5 separate regions of the Homo sapiens genome follow, and regions 2, 3, 4 and 5 are each linked to region 1. Evidence: fine-mapped expression QTL. A gene starts in region 1. Each other region holds a variant in brackets. All regions are shown on one strand. Distances are from middle to middle.

Region 1 (4,119 bases):
AGCGTGAGCCATTGCAAACAGCCAGCTATATTTTATTTTTAATTAATTAATTTATTTATTTTTGAGATGGAGCCTTGCTTTGTCACGCAGGCCAGAGTGCAGTGGCACGATCTCAGCTCACTGCAACCTCCACCTCCCGGGTTCAAGCGATTCTCATGCCTCAGCCTCCTGAGTAGCTGGGACTGCAGGCACACGCCACCGCAGCTGGCTAATTTTTGTATTTTTAGTAGAGACGGGGTTTTGGTATGTTGGCCAGGCTGGACTCAAACTCCTGACTTCAGGTGATCCACCCACCTCGGCCTCCCAAAGTGCTGGAATTACAGGCATGAGCCACTGTGCCCAGCCCCGGCTATACTTTAAACTTATGTTTAGCAATTAACATGTCAGTATTTTAACTTACAAATGACTCAGACATTTAATGAATATCTATTACTTAATTTAATATGTTCGAAATTTCAAGTCACCAAAAAAGATTTTTAAAACTATTTTTAAGTAGACAAATTTTATAAAACAAATTATTTTTAAAAGTTTATAAACTTTTATTCCATTTACATTTACCTAATCTACTTGCTCTTAACAATTATGCTTGAATTGCTCATGAAAAATTTCATGAGATATTAAACAAAGCTAGCCATTGAAGGAGTTCAGGAGTTTTTCCCAAAATCATTTCCTCTCCCCTAAATTGTCCCTCCCCAATGAAGAGGATACACAAGCTCCTAAAATCTCAGTTTTTGTTGGGGGAGGCAGAGGGAATATTAGTTTTTCTTTTCTGTGATACCCCCTACACGAAATCTGTGTACTTTTTCTCTTGTTAATCTACCTGCAGTCAATTTATTTCATAGACTTAGTTATCCAAGCCTCAGAGAGTAGAGGGGAAGTCTTTCTTCCTCTATACCATCATCTTATGTTAATTTTTGTTGACAAATCAGGCAAGTGTCAAACATATCACAGTCTAATGGCCTCTGAGTTGGATTTTTTTTTTTTTTTTTTTTTTTTTGAGATGGAGTCTCGCTCTGTTGCCCAGGCTGGAGTGCAGTGACACGATCTCGGCTCACTGCAAGCTCCGCCTCCCGGGTTCACGCCATTCTCCTGACTCAGCCTCCCGAGTAGCTGGGACTACAGGCGCCCGCCACCACGCCTGGCTAATTTTTTGTATATTTAGTAGAGACGCGGTTTCACCATGTTAGCCAGGATGGTCTCGATCTCCTGACCTGGTGATCCGCCCGCCTCGGCCTCCCAAAGTGCTGGGATTACAGGCGTGAGCCACCGCGCCCGGCCAGAATTTTTTTTAAACAACATGGAAACAAATAAGACCTCGTTCTGTTTTCTAGGAGCTAAAAATCCAACGAAAGAAGACACAGACACAATATTCCCCTTGTTACAAAGAGAACTGTGTCAACTTTTATAACTGACACAAAGATCTGTGCTATAAGGGCGGGGAAGGTTTTTTCCTACTTTCCACAGCACTGTGGATTGTTCCACAGTTTAATTTGATCTTAATTTTTATGTGGAAATACACATGAATGTAATGAGTTCTTAAATGCTAAATTTAGGAAGCAAGGTTCGTTAGGGGAGAGAAAAAAACACCTACATGGTTATCTCTAAACTTTACATATCGAGAACCTTGGAATTTAATTTTATTGTTGTTCTGTAACATATTTTCATGTTTAAAATCAGAAAAGGCAGCATTTCTCGAGTTTCCTGCTTTCGAGGAAGGGAGGCATAAAATGTTTAAAAAGACGCCGCTCACACACCTCTTAAGAATCAGAGCACAGTGAGGAAGAGGAGCGAGGAAGCACTAGGATCGCAGCGCTACTCCCAGACCACGTCAGTGCCCAGAGGGCGCCCTCGCCTGTAGGCGGGAACCGCGAGTCCGCAGCAAGTCCCCAGCCCCGAGCTCGCGCAGGTGGGCGAGGCGGGGACGTGGTGGGCGGGGCCTAGAAAGGCGGGGCCTCTGGGGGCGGCCCCGGGGCGGGCCACGCTGGTGTGAGGGCTGCAGGCGCAGCTCCGGAGCGCCTAGAGCGCGGCGCGGGGCGGGAGCTTGGTGGAGCAGGAGCGGCTGGGCATCCTCCTGAGACTCCGGGGTCAGACGCCCACTCCAGGTAACCGGCTCTCCCTCGTGTTCCCCTGCTCGGCCGCCCGGCGGTGGGGGAAGGCTGAGAAGGATGGGTGGGAGGGAGCCGGCTCTCAGCCAGTGCCCCGTGGCCCCGGGCGGGCTGGGCTCCCCCGCGGAGGAGGAAGCAGAACCGGGGTGCGCCCGGGACCGGAATGGAGCGGCGCCTCTTCCTTCCACCTTCATTTTCCGTCCGCTCAGTGGGGCTGGGACGCCGGTGCCCCGTGTCCCCTGAAAGTCACTTTCTGGCCTCTTGCCCCTGGTCCGTGTAGCTTAGATGTCGGAGGGGTTGGCTGCGGGCGTGGATAGGCAGGGAACGAACAGACTCGCTGCCATCCCATGGGTGCCAGGGGCTTAACTTCATTTAACTTCATTGAATCCTAACGCCAGCCCGGCTAAGATGCATTTTCACCCCTACTTTACTGATAAAGAGGCCAACGCTAGGATAATAAATGACTCACCCTGGAGCAAACTATTACTAATAAGAAAAGAGACGTTAGTTTAGGGGCTCCGAAGCCTCTCCTTTCCTGCTCCCTCGCTTTCCTTCTTCTCGCGGCAGTCTAGGAAACTCGCGCGCAGGGTCTATTACGAAAACAAGTGATTCGTCTTAAAAGCATTTTACCCCCTCCTAGGTTTCTCTTTCCTCTTTTTTTTAAGTATCTCAGGCAGATTCCTCCAAGTTTTGGTTATTAGGTTTTTGAAATGGAAGAAGCCCTTGCTCACTGCTTCTTTTCTCCTGGCAGCGCTTTCTGCGCAGCACAGGCACCCTCGCCTGTCACGCCTCCCTCTCCTCTTCCCGTCTCCCAGCGTGGATGAGGGCGCCTGCAGATCCCGGCTAGGGCACGGACCGCCTAGGCCGAGGTAGGTTCTGTAGGCACCTGGCATGCTGTAGATGCATATAAACGTTGCCCTGTACACCCTTTGCCTTGTTATTTCTTTCTGCAGAAAAGAGAGTCGGTTTTTTACACATAATGGGGCAAGAGGCCAATTGGGAAGATATATGGTGTTCAAAGAAAGCCGTGGTGCCTTGAGATGAGAATGCGGCCACAGCTTTTTGTGGGCTGAATTTGATGGGTGGGAGGTGAGAGACGTGGTCTGGAAGTTGTCTCTTCGTCTGGCATTCTGCCCCCCTTCCAGAGCTGTTCTGAAAGGCCGGTTTGTTTTATAGAGGGGAGGAGGAGGGCTTAGTAGTTTTTAAAGATCAGTGTAAATTACCTGCTAGGAGCTTAGGCAATTCCAGGCAGGCCCCCCTGCTGGAGGCTTTCGTAACAGATTTCAGTTCTAGCAGGGAGGAAAACTCAGACTGTGTAGATACCTGCTTTTTCTTAAAGGAATTTTTTTCGGGCCCTTAAAATGGTAGTTTTGGGAAACTGATTTCTTAGAAATGGCAAACTCCTTTATTTTAAAATACAATATACCAAACTATGAATTTACTTTTAAAAAGTTTTATTGGCCGAGAGGTTGATATTTTTTCCATTTCATGATGAGGGTTTGACGGTCACTGCCACCTCCTCTGCCCGTCCTTCAACTTGGCCCTGTAAAGGATCTCCTTAGCCTTGGCCCCAAGTTTGTACTAGATTCTATCCTTCATTAATTATAGTTCATTCTTGATTAATGATAGCAATGCTTCCACTCACTTTTTAAGGAGTTACTCCTTTTCCGTTTGTAATTGAATTGCTTAACAGTAAGAAAAACGTTTTTCCCTAAAACTGGGATCACAAAATCCACTTTATCCACATGGACTAAACAGGTAATGCACAAGAGTGCTTGGTTGGGCCCAGGTGACTGCAGAGGAACCTGCTAAGGCTGGGTGGATATTGGCCATTTCCACCGAGTATCCATGCAGGAATTCCCATTCAGCCATACAGTGTAGGCAGCTTTTTTTTTTTTTTTTTTTTTCCACGAATAGCTGAGAACTTTTACTTAAAAATAAAAAATGTAAAGCCTGATTTTAAATATTGGCTCATATTTTTTCCTTTTTAGAACACAAAGAGGGCCGGGCGCAG
Region 2 (4,119 bases), 25 kb after region 1:
GACTCCTGGGCCAGAGATGAAGTGCCATTTATGACCTATATTAAGCAGTAGCAGAGGATCAGCATTTTTCTTTTAGGTTGCTAGAGCCTTAATTCCCACAGGGCAGTATGAAGAGGGCCAAGTGATAACTACAAACAGTGGGTTGCATTATGGGAAAGAAACCCTGAGCTTAGAGAAGCCAAATCTTTTATAGTGGGCAGTAAGCATGCTGTGCTTTGCCCCAGGTAACATTGTCTTTATTATATTGTCAGTAAGAAGGTTTGCCCTTTGCTAGGGAGGGAAACACCATCTCTGTCTTTCTAGGCTGTTTGCTATAAAAATAGCCTTGAAAAAATTATCTGGAACAAAAAGACAGTGCCTCACTTGCAAGATGTACAGAAATGCAAGCCACCCATGGCGAATTGCCTCCCAACAAAGAGTTGTACTTACGAAAAACAGCATGCTTCTCCCAATGGCCCCCCAAATCTCCTACTCCCTAAAACTCCATTGTCCATTAGAAATATAATGTGAGAAATAAAATTTTCTAGTAGCAGCATTAAAAAAAAAAGAATCAGGGCTGGGCGTGGTGGCTCCATGCCTGTGATCCCAGCACTTTGGGAGGCTGAGGCGGGCGGATCACGAGGTCAGGAGATCGAGACCATCCTGGCTAACACGGTGAAACCCTGTCTCTACTAAAAATACAAAAAAAAATTAGCCGGGCGTGGTGGCAGGCGCCTGTAGTCCCAGCTACTCAGGAGGCTGAGGCAGGAGAATGGCGTGAACCCAGGAGGCAGAGCTTGCAGTGAGCCAAGATTGCACCACTGCACTTCAGCCTGGGCAACAGAGGGAGACTCCATCTCAAAAAAAAAAGAACTGGTAAAATCTTTTTTTATCCTTTTGAGACAGGGTCTTGCTCTCTTACCCAGGCTGGAGTGCAGTGGTGTGATCATGGCTCATTGCAGCCTCAATCTCCTGGGTTCAGGTGATCCTCCCACCTCAGCCTCCTGGGTAGCTGAGACTACAGGCATGCGCCACCACACCGGGCTAATTTTTTTTTTTTTTTTTTTGGTAGAGATGGGAGTCTCACTGTGTTGCCCAGGCTGGTCTCAAACTCCTGGACTCAAGTGATCCTCCTGCCTCAGCTTCCCAAGGTGCTGGGATTATAGGTGTGAGCCACTGCATCTGGCCAAATTAACAGTATATTATCTTTAATCTAGTATATCAAAATTTTATAATGTTAATATGTAAACAGTATAAAAAAGTGAAATATTGAAATGATACATGTGTCTAATATTTGTATTACAATGTAATAATAGTATCTTACATGATGTCATTAAAGTGAAATATAGTCCTACCGAAACAGTAATGTGTTTAAGGGAAAGACATTTAATACTGCTTCAAGTTTTAAAATGTAAATAATTAAAATTTTAAAAAAGTATTTGTTGAGACTAGCCTCATTTCAAGTGCTCAGTAGTTGCATGTGACTACTAGCTAACATTCTCTACTGCATAGCCCTGAAGTTAACCATTTTCAACTTTTTACAGATTTCTTTAGGTGTGTATTTTCATATCTCTAAATAATAATGCTTATATGGTTTCTAAATTATTCAGCTTTAAGTTCTTTCTACTATTAAGGAGGGGTTTTTTTTTTATTGTTTTTTGTTTTAATAGAGACAGGGTCTTTCTCTATCACCCAGTCTAGAGTGCAGTGGTGCAATCATAGCTCACCGCAGCCTCGAACTCCTGGGCTCAAGTGATCCTCCCATCTCAGCCTTCTGAGTAGCTGGGTCTACAGGCGTGCACCACCACACCCAGCTAATTTTTAAATTTTTCTTGTTTTTGTAGAGATGGTATCTCACCATTTTACTTAGGCTAGTCTCAAACTCTTGGGCTCAAGTGATCTTCCAACCTCAGCCTCCCAAAGTGCTACGATAACAGGCACAAGCCACCACACCTGACCATTAAGGAGGGTTTAATTCTCTTTCAACCAAAACCCTCCACCACACTTGCACTCATTTCCTGGCTGTCTCTCATCCCCAAAGTCAATGATTCTGAAAAACTTTTTGTCGTGTGTGTGTATTTTTAAATATGAGATGGGGTCTTGCTATGTTGATTCAGGTTGTTCCAGGCTGATCTGGAACTCTTGGGCTCAAGTGTTCTTCCCGCCTCAACCTTCCAAGTAGCTGGGATCGTAAGTGTGTGCCACCATGCCTGGCCTGAAAACTTTTTTATTTCAGCACTGTTTATACTTTAAAAAAATCACTGAGGATCACAAAGAGCTTTTGTTTATGTGGGTTATATCTATTGGTATATATTCTATCAGAAAGTAAAACTGAGGCTGGACATGGTGGCTCACGCCTGTAATCCTAGCACTTTGGGAGGCCAAGGCAGGAGGCTTGCTTGAGGCCAGGAATTCAAGATCAAGTTTAAGTCCAGCTTGGGCATCATAGTGAGACCCTATCTCTACAAAAATAAGCAGCCAGGTGCACCTGTGGTTGCAGCTACTTGAGAGGCTAAGGTGG[A/T]AGGATCCCCAGGAGTTTGAGCCTGCAGTGAGCCAAGATAATGACATTGTACTACAGACTGGGTGATGGATTGAGACCCTGTCTTAAAAAAAAAAAAAAGAGAGAGAAAGCAAAAAACTTAAGTATTACTTCTGTGAAAATAACAATGATAAGCCCTTTATTTTAACATAAGTAATTTCTTGTGAAAATCTTTTCAGAAAAATTGGAAGAATAACAGTGTTTTTGTATTTTTGCAAATCTCTTTTACTGTTTGACTTAATAGAAAATACCTGAATTCTGATACTTCTGCACTTATTCTGTTGAAAACAAACACATCATGTAGACCCTGGAAAACTGCGCCGTATATAACACAGAGGGAGTGAAAAGGGTGCAGAATGGCCTAGTATTATTATGAAAATAGTTTTGAGACCCTCTGTATATTGTCATGCTTTTTGTTTGACCACAACTCAATGTTTATATTACTATAGCCATGTATAAACTGAGCATAGCATACCATGATTGCTTTTTTTTTTTTTTTTTTCTGAGATGGAATCTCACTCTGTTACCCAGGCTGGAGTGCAGTGGCACCATTTTGGGTCACTGCAACCTCCGCCTCCCAGATTCAAGTGATTCTCCTGCCTCAGCCTCCAGAGTAGCTGGGACTACAGACTCGTGCCACCACACCCAGCTAATTTTTGTATTTTTAGTAAACACGGGGTTTCACCATGTTGGCCAGGCTTGTCTCAAACTCCAGACCTCATGATCCGCCCACCTTGGCCTCCCAAAGTGCTGGGATTACTGGCGTGAGCCGCCGCGCCCGACCATGATTTCTTTTATTGTACATACTTGTTGGCATATTTTACTCACTTGTACTCAATGGCATTTTTTCATATTGTTTGTTTATTATATGTACTTTTATGTTTTTTGGAGATGGAGTCTCACTCCGTCACCCAGGCTGGAGTGCAGTGGTGCTATCTCGGCTCACTTCAACCTCCACCTCCCAGGTTCAAGTGATTATCCTGCCTTAGCCTCCCAAGCACCTGGGATTATGGGCGCATGCCACCACACCCGGCTAATTTTTTGTGTTTTTAGTAGAGACAGGGTTTTGCCGAGTTGGCCAGCCTGGTCTTGAACTCCTGACCTCAAGTGATCAGCTTGCCTCGGCCTCCCAAAGTGCTGGGAGGCCTGCATTTTACTTATTTAATTCTGGCCTGCACCTGGCCTGCATTTTACTTATTTAATTCTGAACTCTACCTTAGTTATCAAAATCTCTTCTAAATCCATTAATTTACAGCAGGGGTTCTCTGTTTCTCTCAAATATTTTCTGGAGCTGTTTACTTGCTTTAATTAAGGACTGGTTTCTTCCTAGTACTCCCACACAACCATCATCTTGGGATCTGTCTTTGTAATCCTAGGATTTCTGTTGCCTCTCATTTATATTGGGTCCCTTGATTACTGGATCCTGTCTCTTCCTTTTTTTTTTTTGAGACAAGGTCTCACTCTGCTGTCACCCAGGCTGAAGTGCAGTGGCTCAGTCTCACTCATTGCAACCTCCGCCTCCCAGGTTCAAGTGATTCTCCTGCCTCAGCCTCCCAAGTAGCTGGGATTACAGGTGTGCGCCACCACATCTGGTTAATTTT
Region 3 (4,119 bases), 89 kb after region 1:
CCTTAGGGATCGGCAGCAACCTCAATTCTTGCCCCCTCAGAAGAAAGAATTCAACCCAAAAGGCATAAGGAATGAGAGAAGACCAAGACAAGTTTTAGGGCAGGAGTGAAAGTTTGTTAAAAAGCTTTACAAGAGAAATTAAAGGAAGTAAAGTACACCTGAAAGAGGGCCAACCCGGCAACTTGAGAGATCAAGGGCACTGTTTGACCTTTGACTTGGGTTTTTTTTTGTTTTTTTTTGAGACGGAGTCTCACTCTGCTGCTTAGGCTGGAGTGCAGTGGTGCCATCTCGGCTCACTGCAACCTCCACCTCCTGGGTTCAAGTGATTCTCCTGCCTCAGTCTCCCGAGCAGCTGGGGTTACAGGCACCCGCCACCATGCCCGGCTTATTTTTGTATTTTTTTTAGTAGACATAGGGTTTTACCATGTTGGTCAGGCTGGTCTCGAACTCCTGACCTGAGGAGATCCGCCTGCCTTGGCCTCCCAAAGTGCAGGGATTACAGGCGTGAGCCACCGCACCCAGCCTGACTTGGGGTTTTATATGTTGGCATGATTCTTTCTTGGGGTGGGCTGTCTGCATGCACGGTGGCCTGCTACAACATGTGCAGTGTATTTACTGGAGTTGTATGCATGCTTACTTGAGGTAGTCTTCCCTTACCCGTTGAATGCTTCTAGAAGGTCTTATACCAGTTAAACCACCATTTTGCCGCTTAGTGCTCATGTTTGAGCCCACTCGCCCAACTCCTGAGATCTTATCGGGAAGCTGCTGATCACGCAAGTTTTTTTCTGTCTACTGGGAGACTACCTTTCCCTGGCGCTAGCTGGCATCAATTATTATTTTAGAGAAACAATGTAACAGTCACCTGACCATCACCTGATGATTGCCTAACATTCCTGGTGGGGTTGGGGGAGCCCTCTCCTGCCCAGCTCATGTCTGACTAGCTACCCACTATAACAGAGCTAGCATTGTATACAAGTGACAATTGTTCTGCATCTTCAACAGCACTTAATATTATCATTTTTAAAAGTCAGCCATTCTAATAGATGTGTAATGGTATATTACTGTGGTTTTAATTTGCATTTCCCTGATGCAAACTGAGTTTAGCATCCTTTCATGTGCTTATTTGCCATCTATATACCTTCTTTAATAAAGATCTTGTTCAAATGTTTTGCCCATGTTTTTACTTTTATCTTTTCTTACTGTTGAGTTTTGAAAGTTCTTTATATATTCTGGATGTGAGTTCTTTGTTGTATATGTGTTTTGCCCATGTATCCTTCATAGCCTGTGGATTGTCTTTTCATTTGCCTAAAGCTACCTTTTATGAAGCAAAAGATTTTAATTAAAAAAAAAAAAAAACATAGAGACAGGGTCTTACTATGTTGCCCAGGCTAATCTCGAACTCCTGGGCTCAAGCAATCCTCCTGCCTTGGCCTCCCAAAGTGCTGAGATTACAGGCGTGAGCCAGGCGTGAGCCAGGCGTGCCTGGCCCAGGATTTTAATTTTGGTGAAGTCAAACTTATCACTTTTTCTTTCATTGATTGTGCTTTGGTTGTCAAACTGAACAAGTCCTTTCCTAACCCAAGCTCACAAAGGTTTTCTTCTAAAAGTTCTAAGTTTTCCATTTAGATCTGGGCTCCATTTTAAATTAGCTTTTTTTTTTATAACATAGGAGGCATAGGAAGAAATGCAATGTTTTTGCTTATGGATGTCTGATTTTTCAGCACCATCAATTGAAAAGATCATCCTTTCTTTGAATTTCCTTTGTCCCTCAGTCAAAATGGGTAGAGCTGATTTGTGTGGATCTGCTTCTGGACTCTACTCTGTTGCACTGATTTGTGTTTGTGATTTCATGTCTCACCAATATCAAACTATCTTGATTACTGCAGCTTATCACAGTAAGTCTTGAAGTCATAAGTATAAATTTATCATCTGTTTTTCTTTTGCAAAATTGTTTTCTCTAATCTCTTTCCTTTGCCCATCATATAACTTGTAGCATCAGCTTATCCATATATACAAAAAATTTCTGATATTTTGCTTGAGACTGTGTTGAACCTATAGATCAATTTGGGGAGAATTGACATGTTAATATTGAGTTTTTCCAATTCATAAGCTCACTCTTTTAGTTTTCTTTTAAGACTGAAAAATTGCTAAGAAGAGTGGTGTTGACATGACAGGTTTAAACCAGTGTTTTTGCCTTATGATCCATTAGTTGGCTGGGAAATGAAATTCAGTGAATCAGAGTCATCATTAGAAAATGAAATAGAAGAACCATACCAGAGCATAATGCACATTACAAAGGTGAATATTATTTCATTAAGTTTTCTTTTCCATTTTCTCTAAAGTTATGTAGATGCATGTGTGTGCTAGGTTGCCATGCAAAGTTTGTTTCTTACTCTAAGTC[G/A]TAGCCTAAAATGTTTTTGATCTTAGATATAATTCTGAAGATAGAGTCATCTTCTGTAGTGAATTTTTTTCTTTTTGAGACAGTATCTCATTCTGTTGCCCAGGCTGGAGTGCAGTGGCCTGATCTTTGTTCACTGCAGCCTCCACTTCTCCCGGGTTCAGTGATCCTCCCAACTCAGCCTACTGAGCAGCTAAGACCACAGGCATGAGCCACCATGCCCAGCTAGTTTTATTATTTTTGCCCAGGCTAATCTTGAACTCCTGGCCTCAAATGATCCTCCCCCCTCGGCCTCCCCCAGTGCTGGGATTACAGACATGAGCCACAGTGTCCATCTGTAAGTTCTTATAATTTGTTGTTGTTGTTGTTATTTATTTCTTATTTCATAATAATAAACTTAAGTCTGCAATCCAGCTGGGCATGGAAGGAAATAAGGAAAATATGGAACCCAAAAGAACTGAAGTGAGAACACAAAGATTATAGGATACTATGAGCAAATGGGGTGGAAAGGTGCTCTCCTGAGCTACAGAAGGAATGGTCTGGTGGTTAAGATAAAACACAAGTCAAATTTGTTAGAGTTGTCCACAGTCAGCAATGGTGATCTTCTTGCTGGTCTTGCCATTCCTGGACCCAAAGCGCTCCATGGCCTCCATGATACTCATGCCTTCTTTCACCTTGCCAAAGACCACATGCTTGCCATCCAACCACTCAGTCTTGGCAGTGCAGATGAAAAACTGAGAGCTATTTGTGTTGAGTCCAACATTTGCCATGGACAAGATGCCAGGACCTGTATGCTTCAGAATGAAGTTCTCATGATCAAATTTCTCCCCATAGAGTGACTTGCTGCCAGTGCCATTATGGTTTGTGAAGTCACCAGCCTGACACATAAACCCTGGAATAATTCTGTGAAAGCAGGAACCCTTATAACCAAATCCTTTCTCTCTAGTGCTCTGAGCATGAAAGTTTCTGCTGTCTTTGGAACTTTGCAAACAGCTCCAAGGAGATTCTGCTTAAAAGCTCGCTGATGATGGCGATGTTGAAGAACATGATGGGGTTGACTATGGCTGGTGGCAGAGGGCTCTGGGAGGCATCGGCGTCTGCAAAGCCGAATTTGTATTAATTTCATGTTGCCTCAGCATTCATTTTCAATATAAGTTGGAGTCACTCATACTAGAAGCAGGGCTTAGACGTCTTTGACACAGATTGCAATTCTTCCAAACTCTACCTCTTCCCAGTTCCTCAAGGTAGGTCAATCCAGATACGCGCTTTATACAACTGCCTCCTGGTGACCACCTTTTTATGGGATGGCTAGATGCAACCTACTTGACTTACCCCACTGACCCCCCACGCCGTGGGTGGACTGCCCAGATATGCCACAGTGATCACCTCTTGGTCACAGTGTGACTTCATGGACCTTGTACCTGCTTGCTATAAACCCACCAATTAGAACTCATCATGGGAAACCTGCTTGGGTAACATGCTGGACCAGAATAAAGGCTTTGCCCCAGAGGTCTCTTTCTCTCTCTCTTGCTATCCCCCTGCTGGTTAAGTGTGCATGTTCCAGACAGCTTTCCCCCTTTCTTTTGGCCCTGCAAGGCGTGCTGCCCTCTTCCCTTTGGAATCTGTTAGTAATATACTGCTCCTCTGTGTTTCATCTGACCGACACAGCCAAACTTAACTTTTGTCCTGGTCAGCGCCCTCCTAGAGTCTGGCTGTCTTGG
Region 4 (4,119 bases), 69 kb after region 1:
TTTATCCTTGTCTAGGATCCCTGGTGAGGTCTTCTGACTCTTTCATGCACCACTCAAGACCAATATAATCTTCTCTCATGCTACTTCTGAGCCATGAGGAACCTGGAAGGAGGGCATCTCTGTCCTTTTCGTGGGACAAAAAAGTGAATGTAGGAAATCATATCAGCTAATATCACATATCATCCTTCCATACCTGTAACACATATACAGGAGTTAAACACAATAGCAAGAAAGAAATTCCTTCAATTAGGCTGGGTGCGGGGGCTCATGCCTATAATCCCAGCACTCTGGGATCCAAGGCAGGTGGATCACCTGAAGTCAGGAGTTTTGAGACCAGCCTGGCCATCATAGCAAAACCCCATCTCTACTAAAAATACAGAAATTAGCTACGTGTGGTGGCAGGTGCATGTAATCCCAGCTACTCCGGAGGCTGAGGCAAGAGAATCGCTTGAACCTGGGAGGCAAAGGTTGCAGTGAGCCAAGAGCGTACCAGTGCACTCCAACCTGGGTGACAGAGCAAGGCTCCGTCTCAAAAAAAAAAAAAAAAAAAAATCCTTCAATCAAATTCCCCAGTTCTTACACAGATACCTCACAATAGTGGTGTTATTGATATTTTTGGGTAAGAGGAAAATCTTTCTTTTGCCCAACTATCCCTACCTTGCAAGACTTTTAGCATTCTTTGACCTTGCCCACTAAAAGACAACAGTTTAAATAAAATTTTTAAAAGATCATTAGATATTTTGAAATGCCTCCAAATGGAAAAAAATTGGCCTGCTTAAGAACTGCTGTACTAATGGTCTCCCAACTGTTTCACAGGTCTCAGGGAAGGCCACAGAAGGCTTCAGTGGCTGAATAGAAAAGTAGGTGGTTGAGGGGTCAGCCTCCTATCCTTGCCTCAGAACACAGAACATGCCTCAGGGCAAAGTGACTGACTTCGCAGGCTGTGATGATAGCTGTTATATTCTTTTCGAGAGAGGGGATTTCACTGTCACCCAGGCTTAAGTGTAGTGGTGGGAATCATAGCTCACTACAGCCTCGACCTCCCAGGCTCAAGCGATCCTCCTACCTCAGCCTCCCAAGTACCTGGGACCACCACATGTGGCTAAGTTTTTAATTTTTATTTTCGTAGACATGAGGTCTCGCTAAGCTGCCCAGGTAACTCCTGGGCTCAAGTGATTCTCCCACTTTTGCCTCCCTAAGTGCTGGGATTACAAGCATGAGCCACTATACTGGGCCCCCCATTATATTCTTCATAAGTAAAAGCATATCCAGAAATTTTCATTTCCAGTTGATCTTTACGCTGCTTTCTTGACCATTTCTCTGAAGGTGCCTGGAGCAAAAATGTGTCCAGAATTGGTGGGTTGTTGGTCTCGCTGACCTCAAGAACGGAGCCGTGGACCCTCGCGGTAAGTGTTGTGTCCCGAGTTTGTTCCTTCTGATGTTCAGATGTGTCCAGAGTTTCTTCCTTCTGGGGGGTTGCTGGTCTTGCTGACTTCAGGAGTGAAGCTGCAGACCTTCGCAGTGAGTGGGCGGCGCATCTGGAGTTGTTCGTTCCTTCCAGTGGGTTCGTGGTCTCACTGGCCTCAGGAGTGAAACTGCAGACCTTTGCTGTGAGTGTTACAGTTCATAAAGGTGGCACGTCCAGAGTTGTTCGTTCCTCCCATCTGGAATTGTTCATTCCTCCCATCTGGAATTGTTCATTCCTCCCATCTGGAATTGTTCATTCCTCCCATCTGGAATTGTTCATCCCTCCCCGTGGGTTCATGGTCTCCCTGGCTGGCTTCAGGAGTGAAGCTGCAGACCTTCGCACTGAGTGTTACAGCTCATTGTTACAGCTCATAAAGGCAGCGTGGACCCAAAGGGTGAGCAGCAACAACATTTACTTCTAAGAGGCAAAGAACAAAGCCTTGGCAGAGTAGAAGGGGACACAGTTAACCAAGTAGCCACTGCTGCCTCAGGTGGCGTGGCTTTTATTCCCTTATCTGGCCCCACCCACATCCTATTGATTGGTCCATTTTACAGAGAGCTGATTGGTCCATTTTACAGAGAGCTGATTGGTCCGTTTTACAGAGAGTTGATTGGTCTGTCTTGACAGAGTGCTGATTGGTGTGTTTACAAACCTTTAGTTAGACACAGAGTGCTGATTGGTGCGTTTACAATCCTTTAGCCAGAGGGAAAAGTTCTCCAGGTCTCCACCCAACCCAAAAGCCCAGCTGGCTTCACCTCTCAATGGCACTGGCCGCCAGGACTTTTGGGCACCTACCCCGGGCATTCCGGCAACCCAGAGGGAGCTCGTACCTGGATCAAGCCCAGCAGGCGC[C/T]GAGTGTGGGACCCGCTCCCAGCCCGCGCCCACCTGGAACCCGTGCTGGCCCACTAGCGCCACAGCCCCAGCTGCCGCCCTCGCCTCTGCCTCCACACCTCCCTGTGAGCAGAGGGAGCCGGCTCCCGCCTCGGCCAGCCCCAGAGAGGGGCCCCCACAGCACAGCTGCGGGCTGAAGGGCTCCTGGAGTGTGGCCAGAGCAGATGCTGAGGCCAAGGAGGCACCGGGAGTGAGCAAGGGCTGCTAGCACGTTGTCACCTCTCAAAACCACTTGAGCTTTACCATCCAACATAATATCCTTTCGTTATCTCCTCACTATAGTTCTAGAACTATCATTTGCACATTTTATGTTAGATATGATGGATCAAAATTGTTTACCAGAACTTAAATGGTAAAAAGAGGCCATATTAATTACATACTGCATTGACAATATTGATGATGCTTTGTTTCAGATATACTATATATCGATGTTAACTGCTTTTGAAATATTTGAAAATTAGCCAGGTGGGATGGCTCACATCTGTAATCCCAATACTTTGGGAAGCCAAGATGGCAGGATCGCTTGAGCGCAGGAGTTGGAGACCAACCTGGGCAACACAGTGACACCCTGTCTCTATATTTAAAAAAAAAATTGAAAATTGATACTTGTTTTTGAAATACTTGGCTTTATACATGTGTGTATAATAAAAAACAAGTATCTGCTTTGTGTAGGGCAGCACCAAAGTGGTATGTGTACATTTTCCTGGAAGAACGGAACATTGGAGGAAAAAGTGTTTGGATGCCGTGGGACAAGAGACAGGATTGAATGGGAGAGTGGAAGATAGGATGTTGTCTGTTCCTCAGCCCAGGCTCAGAGACCAGTAATTCACTGGAGTTACTATTTACATGAAGGACTTTGGGAGGCTCCAGGTACAAGCACAGATGTTTCAGGACTTCAGTGAAACATATTACCCTGATTTATAGACGGAGAAGCTTCCCCCTTCCTGGGTGCCTGCAGCACAGCTTTTAACACTGGGTTGGGATGGAAGGTTCTCCAGTGCTGTGTGGGCACCATGAGGAACTGAAAGTTTGGAAACAGCACCTAGATAAAAAGGCTGAAGTAGACACCAGCTAAAGTAATACTAACGAGGCATCTCCTAACAGGGCTTCTTGGCAGTGGAAAGGAGCAGCACAGAAAAATCTGACTGGGGCTGGGCGCGGTGGCTAACGCCTGTAATCCCAGCAGTTTGGGAGTCCAATGTGGGCGGATCACCTGAGATCAGGAGTTCGAGACCAGTCTAACCAACATGGTGAAACCCCATCTCTACTAAAATACAATTAAAAAAAAAAAATCAGCCGGTCGTGGTGGCACGCACCTGTAGTCCCAGTTACTCGGGAGGCTGAGGCAGGGAAATCACTTGAACCTGGGAGGCAGAGGCTGCAGTGAGCCAAGATTGCGCCACTGCACTCCAGCCTGGCAACAGAGCAAGACTCCGTCTCAAAAAAACAAACAACAGCAACAAAAAAACAAGAATTAGCTGAGCAGGGCGGCGTGTGCCTGTGGTCCCAGCTACTAGGGGGACTGAGGCAGGAGGATCTCTTGATCCCAGGAGGTGGAGCTTGCAGTGAGCCGAGATGGACCTACTGCACTCCAGCCTGGGTGACAGAGTGAGACTCCCATCTCAAAAAAAAAAAAAAAAAATCTGATTGGCCTTGGTACTGAGCACTTGGAAGGGGTCTCTAGTTATGGCTGGGGAAGCTTTAAAAGGTGGGCTGAGATCCTGTAGTCTGTAGAGGGGGCCCACTCAGCTAGGGAAATG
Region 5 (4,119 bases), 51 kb after region 1:
TAATAGGAGCTATCACCTGCTGTTGGTTTGAATGTGATGGGCACAGCTGAGGGAAAAGGGACCCCATGCCCCCAATATTGAGTGCCTTCTCCAGATATTGTCACACCGGATCTATTAAACACTTCGAGGTGTTCTTTAGCCCTAAATTAGATGAAACATTCTAGAAAGTGGCAAAATTGATGAATTTCAGATTTTTCTCTAAAGCTTGAGAGCTTTACATATCCTTTATAAGCCTGCTTGTGAAAGATATTGTTTTTAATACATGCTTTAATGTTTTCAGGGCTTGTCATCAGAATATTGATACAATTTTTTTTAATGCAGTAGGACCCAAACTAGAAATGAATTACAACTATTGGGAAAGAAAAAACTATTGTTATTATTGCAGATGATATAATGGTCCAAGTAGAAAGCCTGGGAATCTCATCTTAGAATTAATATGAAATTAGCAAAAACCTCCAGATATCCAAAAGTTAATAGACAAAGGTAGCTTTAAGATATAATTGTAGTATATCACCATTTGTTGTGGCAACAAGCTTTGTCACATTTATAGACAAACTGAGCATGTGTGCAGAAACTATACAAAGATAACAGAAGACCTGTATAGATGGAAAAATACACTGCTCCTAGCTGATAAAATGATTTTTTTGTTTGTTTTTTGTTTTTTGTTTTTTTGAGACAGAGTTTCACTCTTGTTGCCCGGGCTGAAGTGCAATGGCATGATCTCGGCTCACCACAACTTCCGCCTCCTGGGTTCAAGCAATTCTCCTGCCTCAGCCTCCGGAGTAGCTGGGATTACAGACATGTGCCACCATGCCTGGCTAATTTTGTATTTTTAGTAGAAACGGGGTTTCTCCATGTTGGTCAGGCTGGTCTCAACCTCCCGACCTCAGGTGATCCGCCCGCCTTGGCCTCCCAAAGTGCTGGGATTACAGGCGTGAGCCACTGTTCCCAGCCCTAAAATGAAATATTTTAAACATTTCTTCTATTTGTGAATTAACTGAATGCAAGTCTATTAATGTTCTCAATGGCTTGAGAGTATCCTAAATTTCATCTGAAAGATGTGCAAGAATAGGAATATTTTGAAAGGAAAGTCATGAAGTCTTAAGATACTAGATATAAAACCATATTTCACAGCTAAAAAATATTGAAAATGTACTAATAGTTTACATTTGAACCCTTAGACCAAGGCAGTAGTAGCCCCGAAATAGATGTGAGTATAAATAAAATGTTCCAAAAATCCTAGGAACATAAGGAAGGTAAACTTTTGGAGAATACTAGATTATGGCTTTATAATGTACACCAAAATCCAGATGAAAAATATGAAAATAAGCTAGAAGAACATACTAGTGACTATCTTTGGATGGGTGACTGAATTTTCCAAATAAAAGCAATAAGATTCATTAAGGAGCAGATTATATATTTAAAAATATATATCTTCTGAATATGAGAAAGTAAAAGGCAAATGAGATTAGAACATTTGCCTACAGATTTTGGAAGAGGGAGGCTTAATACCTTAATATGGAAATGATTTATGCTAATATTTAAAACCAGTTATATTGAGATAATTCACTTATACAGTTTACCCATTTAAAGTGTATATCTAAGTGGTTTTTATTATAACCATTACCACAATCCATTTTATTTTTATTTGTATTTTAAATATGGAGACAGGTTCTCACTATGTAGCCCAGGCTGGTCTCAAACTCCTGAGCTCAAGCGATTCTCCCACCTCAGCCTCCCAAAGTGCTGGGATTACAAGCATGAGCCACCACGCCTGGCCCATAATCAATTTTAGAACCTCTTCATCACCCCAAGAAGAAACCTTGTACCCTTTATAGTCACTCCCCACAACTCCCTCATACTAACATAGTTGTTTTTTTTTTTTTTTTTTTTGAGACGGAGTCTCGCTCTGTCGCCCAGGCCGGACTGCGGACTGCAGTGGCGCAATCTCGGCTCACTGCAAGCTCCGCCTCCCGGGTTCACGCCATTCTCCTGCCTCAGCCTCCCGAGTAGCTGGGACTACAGGCGCCCGCCACCGCGCCCGGCTAATTTTTTGTATTTTTAGTAGAGACGGGGTTTCACCTTGTTAGCCAGGATGGTCTCGATCTCCTGACCTCATGATCCACCCGCCTCGGCCTCCCAAAGTGCTGGGATTACAGGCGTGAGCCACCGCGCCCGGCCCATAGTTTTTAAACATGAAGACTCCAAGAGAAAAATGAACAAAGGATGTAACAATTCATAGAAGTACAATAAGAAATGGAAATGGCTAATATGAAAAATTATAATTCAATAAAGATGATTCAAATTAAAAGAAAATTTCTGTATCAAATTACCAGTTTTGGTGTTTGGTTTTTTAAAATATCCTTGATACTTGAGAGACCATATTGAGAAATAAGACTACATATAATGTGATCTCATTTATGAAAA[C/G]TATTGAACAGAAAGGAGCATTCAGAATTTCCTGAAGTCACATCTTCATATTTTGAGAATGACTCCTTCCAGCTCCATAAAATTGTTGCCAAATATGTATTTGGAGCTTTTTCCACATATGGTTTGCCTTAGGGAGTCTTATGCTCCCCAGCCCCAGCCTTTATTTAGGGGAGGAAGGAGCCATGATTTCTCTCCTCTCACCTACTGACAGGCATGTTTTAGATGTAACCATTAGTGCTTAGCCGTGTCAAGGTCCTATACTCTGATTAACCTTGTAAGATAGCCCCATTGTATACCCACAGTGAAGAGAACCTTTTGCAGCAGTAGCCTGAATAACCAATCCTATAGGCCACTGGCACTCTCCATCTGACTACAAGAGCTGAGGATGATTAGATTGGCAGCAGTTTTGCCTCTAGCTCCTTGGAACGTATCTATGGGATTTCATTTTCTGATATCCAATACATGTTGATTTAATTGCTTGTTAGGTGAGGGTGGCCTGTTTCCTTGAGCTGCATGCCAGTGGGAAACATATGTTCCCCTTCAGCAGGAGGACTCCAGAAGATTCATACTCTCCAGTAGCCTCCATCCGAACATATGACTGTGGGAGTAACTTGGATGAGCAGTATTGGTGCAGGAGGAGGATCTTGTTTAACTAGATAATTTTGTGCATTTCATATGAAGGTTTATTGACCTTTAAGATATAGAAACCGGTGTTTTTTGTTTTGTTTTGTTTTAATTTCTGCAAAACACGGATACCACTATCACTGGCTTAAACATTATTGGGTATTTATAATTTATTTCCTTTGCCATTAGACTCATTAGTAAACGCTTCCTGGCGCAGTTAGAATTCCCTTAATTGACTTGATGCAAAGAAGATGTGTTTTCTCTTCAGGAAAGCTTTTCGTGCCCCTCCACTCAAAGGAGAATGCCCCTTTAAGTATGTTCCTCAAAGCCCACTGCGCTAATCATGGCAACAGCTGGCATTTGTTGAGCATTTACTTATTGCATGTTCAAAGCACTTTGCATGTATTACCTCCTTTCACTCCATAACAACCTTGGGAATGGGCACTACTTATAAAAAATTGGCCCAATTTACAAAAGAGCAAAGAAAGGCATGAATCCATAATAAACGCTTGAAAAAATGTTTTTCTCTGATCCATTCATCTCTATTTTACCATTTTAACCATCCACCTTCTTCCCCAGAACCTGGCCTGCTGTGAGTGCAGCACATCTCTTTGAGACAGGGTGTCACTCCATTGCCCAGACTGGAGTGCAGTGGCACGATCACGGCTCACTGCAGCCTGGACTTTCTGGGCTCCAGCAATCCTCCCACCTCAGTCTCTAGAGTAGCTCAGACCACAGGCATGCGCCACCATGCTTGGCTAATTTTTGTATTTTTTTTTTTTTTATAGAAATGGGGTTTCGCCATGCTGCCCAGGCTGCTCTCAAACTCATGAGCTCAAGCCATCCACCCGCTTCAGCCTCCCAAAATTCTGGGATTACAGGCGTGAGCCACCACGCCTTGCCTGCATTTCTTGTTTAAAGCAAGATGTGCTGGCTGGGCGCTGTGGCTCACGCCTGTAATCCCAGCACTTTTAGAGGCCAAGGCGGGCAGATCACCAGGTCAAGAGATCGAGACCATCCTGGCCAATGTGGTAAAACTCTATCTCTACTAAAATTACAAAAATCAGC

The links.
Region 2: its variant is fine-mapped to the expression of GCNT1 in whole blood (INTERVAL, PIP above 0.99).
Region 3: its variant is fine-mapped to the expression of GCNT1 in whole blood (INTERVAL, PIP 0.96).
Region 4: its variant is fine-mapped to the expression of GCNT1 in whole blood (INTERVAL, PIP above 0.99).
Region 5: its variant is fine-mapped to the expression of GCNT1 in whole blood (INTERVAL, PIP above 0.99).

Annotation. Positions count from the first base shown.
Region 1 is chr9:76,457,204-76,461,322 of GRCh38, forward strand. GCNT1 (glucosaminyl (N-acetyl) transferase 1) reads left to right here and starts at 1,979. Exons shown (of 4, transcript NM_001490.5): 1 at 1,979-2,102; 2 at 2,857-2,974. RefSeq lists silencers at 1,764-2,303, 3,294-3,363 and an enhancer at 2,914-3,023.
Region 2 is chr9:76,481,785-76,485,903 of GRCh38, forward strand. The region is part of intron 2 of GCNT1 (glucosaminyl (N-acetyl) transferase 1); the gene reads left to right. Among named protein-coding and RNA genes, the nearest start is that of GCNT1, 25 kb to the left of the region's middle. The variant A/T (reference allele first, on the strand shown) is at 2,501.
Region 3 is chr9:76,546,312-76,550,430 of GRCh38, forward strand. It overlaps the pseudogene PPIAP87. Among named protein-coding and RNA genes, the nearest start is that of GCNT1, 89 kb to the left of the region's middle. The variant G/A (reference allele first, on the strand shown) is at 2,402.
Region 4 is chr9:76,526,490-76,530,608 of GRCh38, forward strand. No RefSeq gene overlaps it. Among named protein-coding and RNA genes, the nearest start is that of GCNT1, 69 kb to the left of the region's middle. The variant C/T (reference allele first, on the strand shown) is at 2,321.
Region 5 is chr9:76,507,732-76,511,850 of GRCh38, forward strand. No RefSeq gene overlaps it. Among named protein-coding and RNA genes, the nearest start is that of GCNT1, 51 kb to the left of the region's middle. RefSeq lists an enhancer at 3,419-3,919. The variant C/G (reference allele first, on the strand shown) is at 2,428.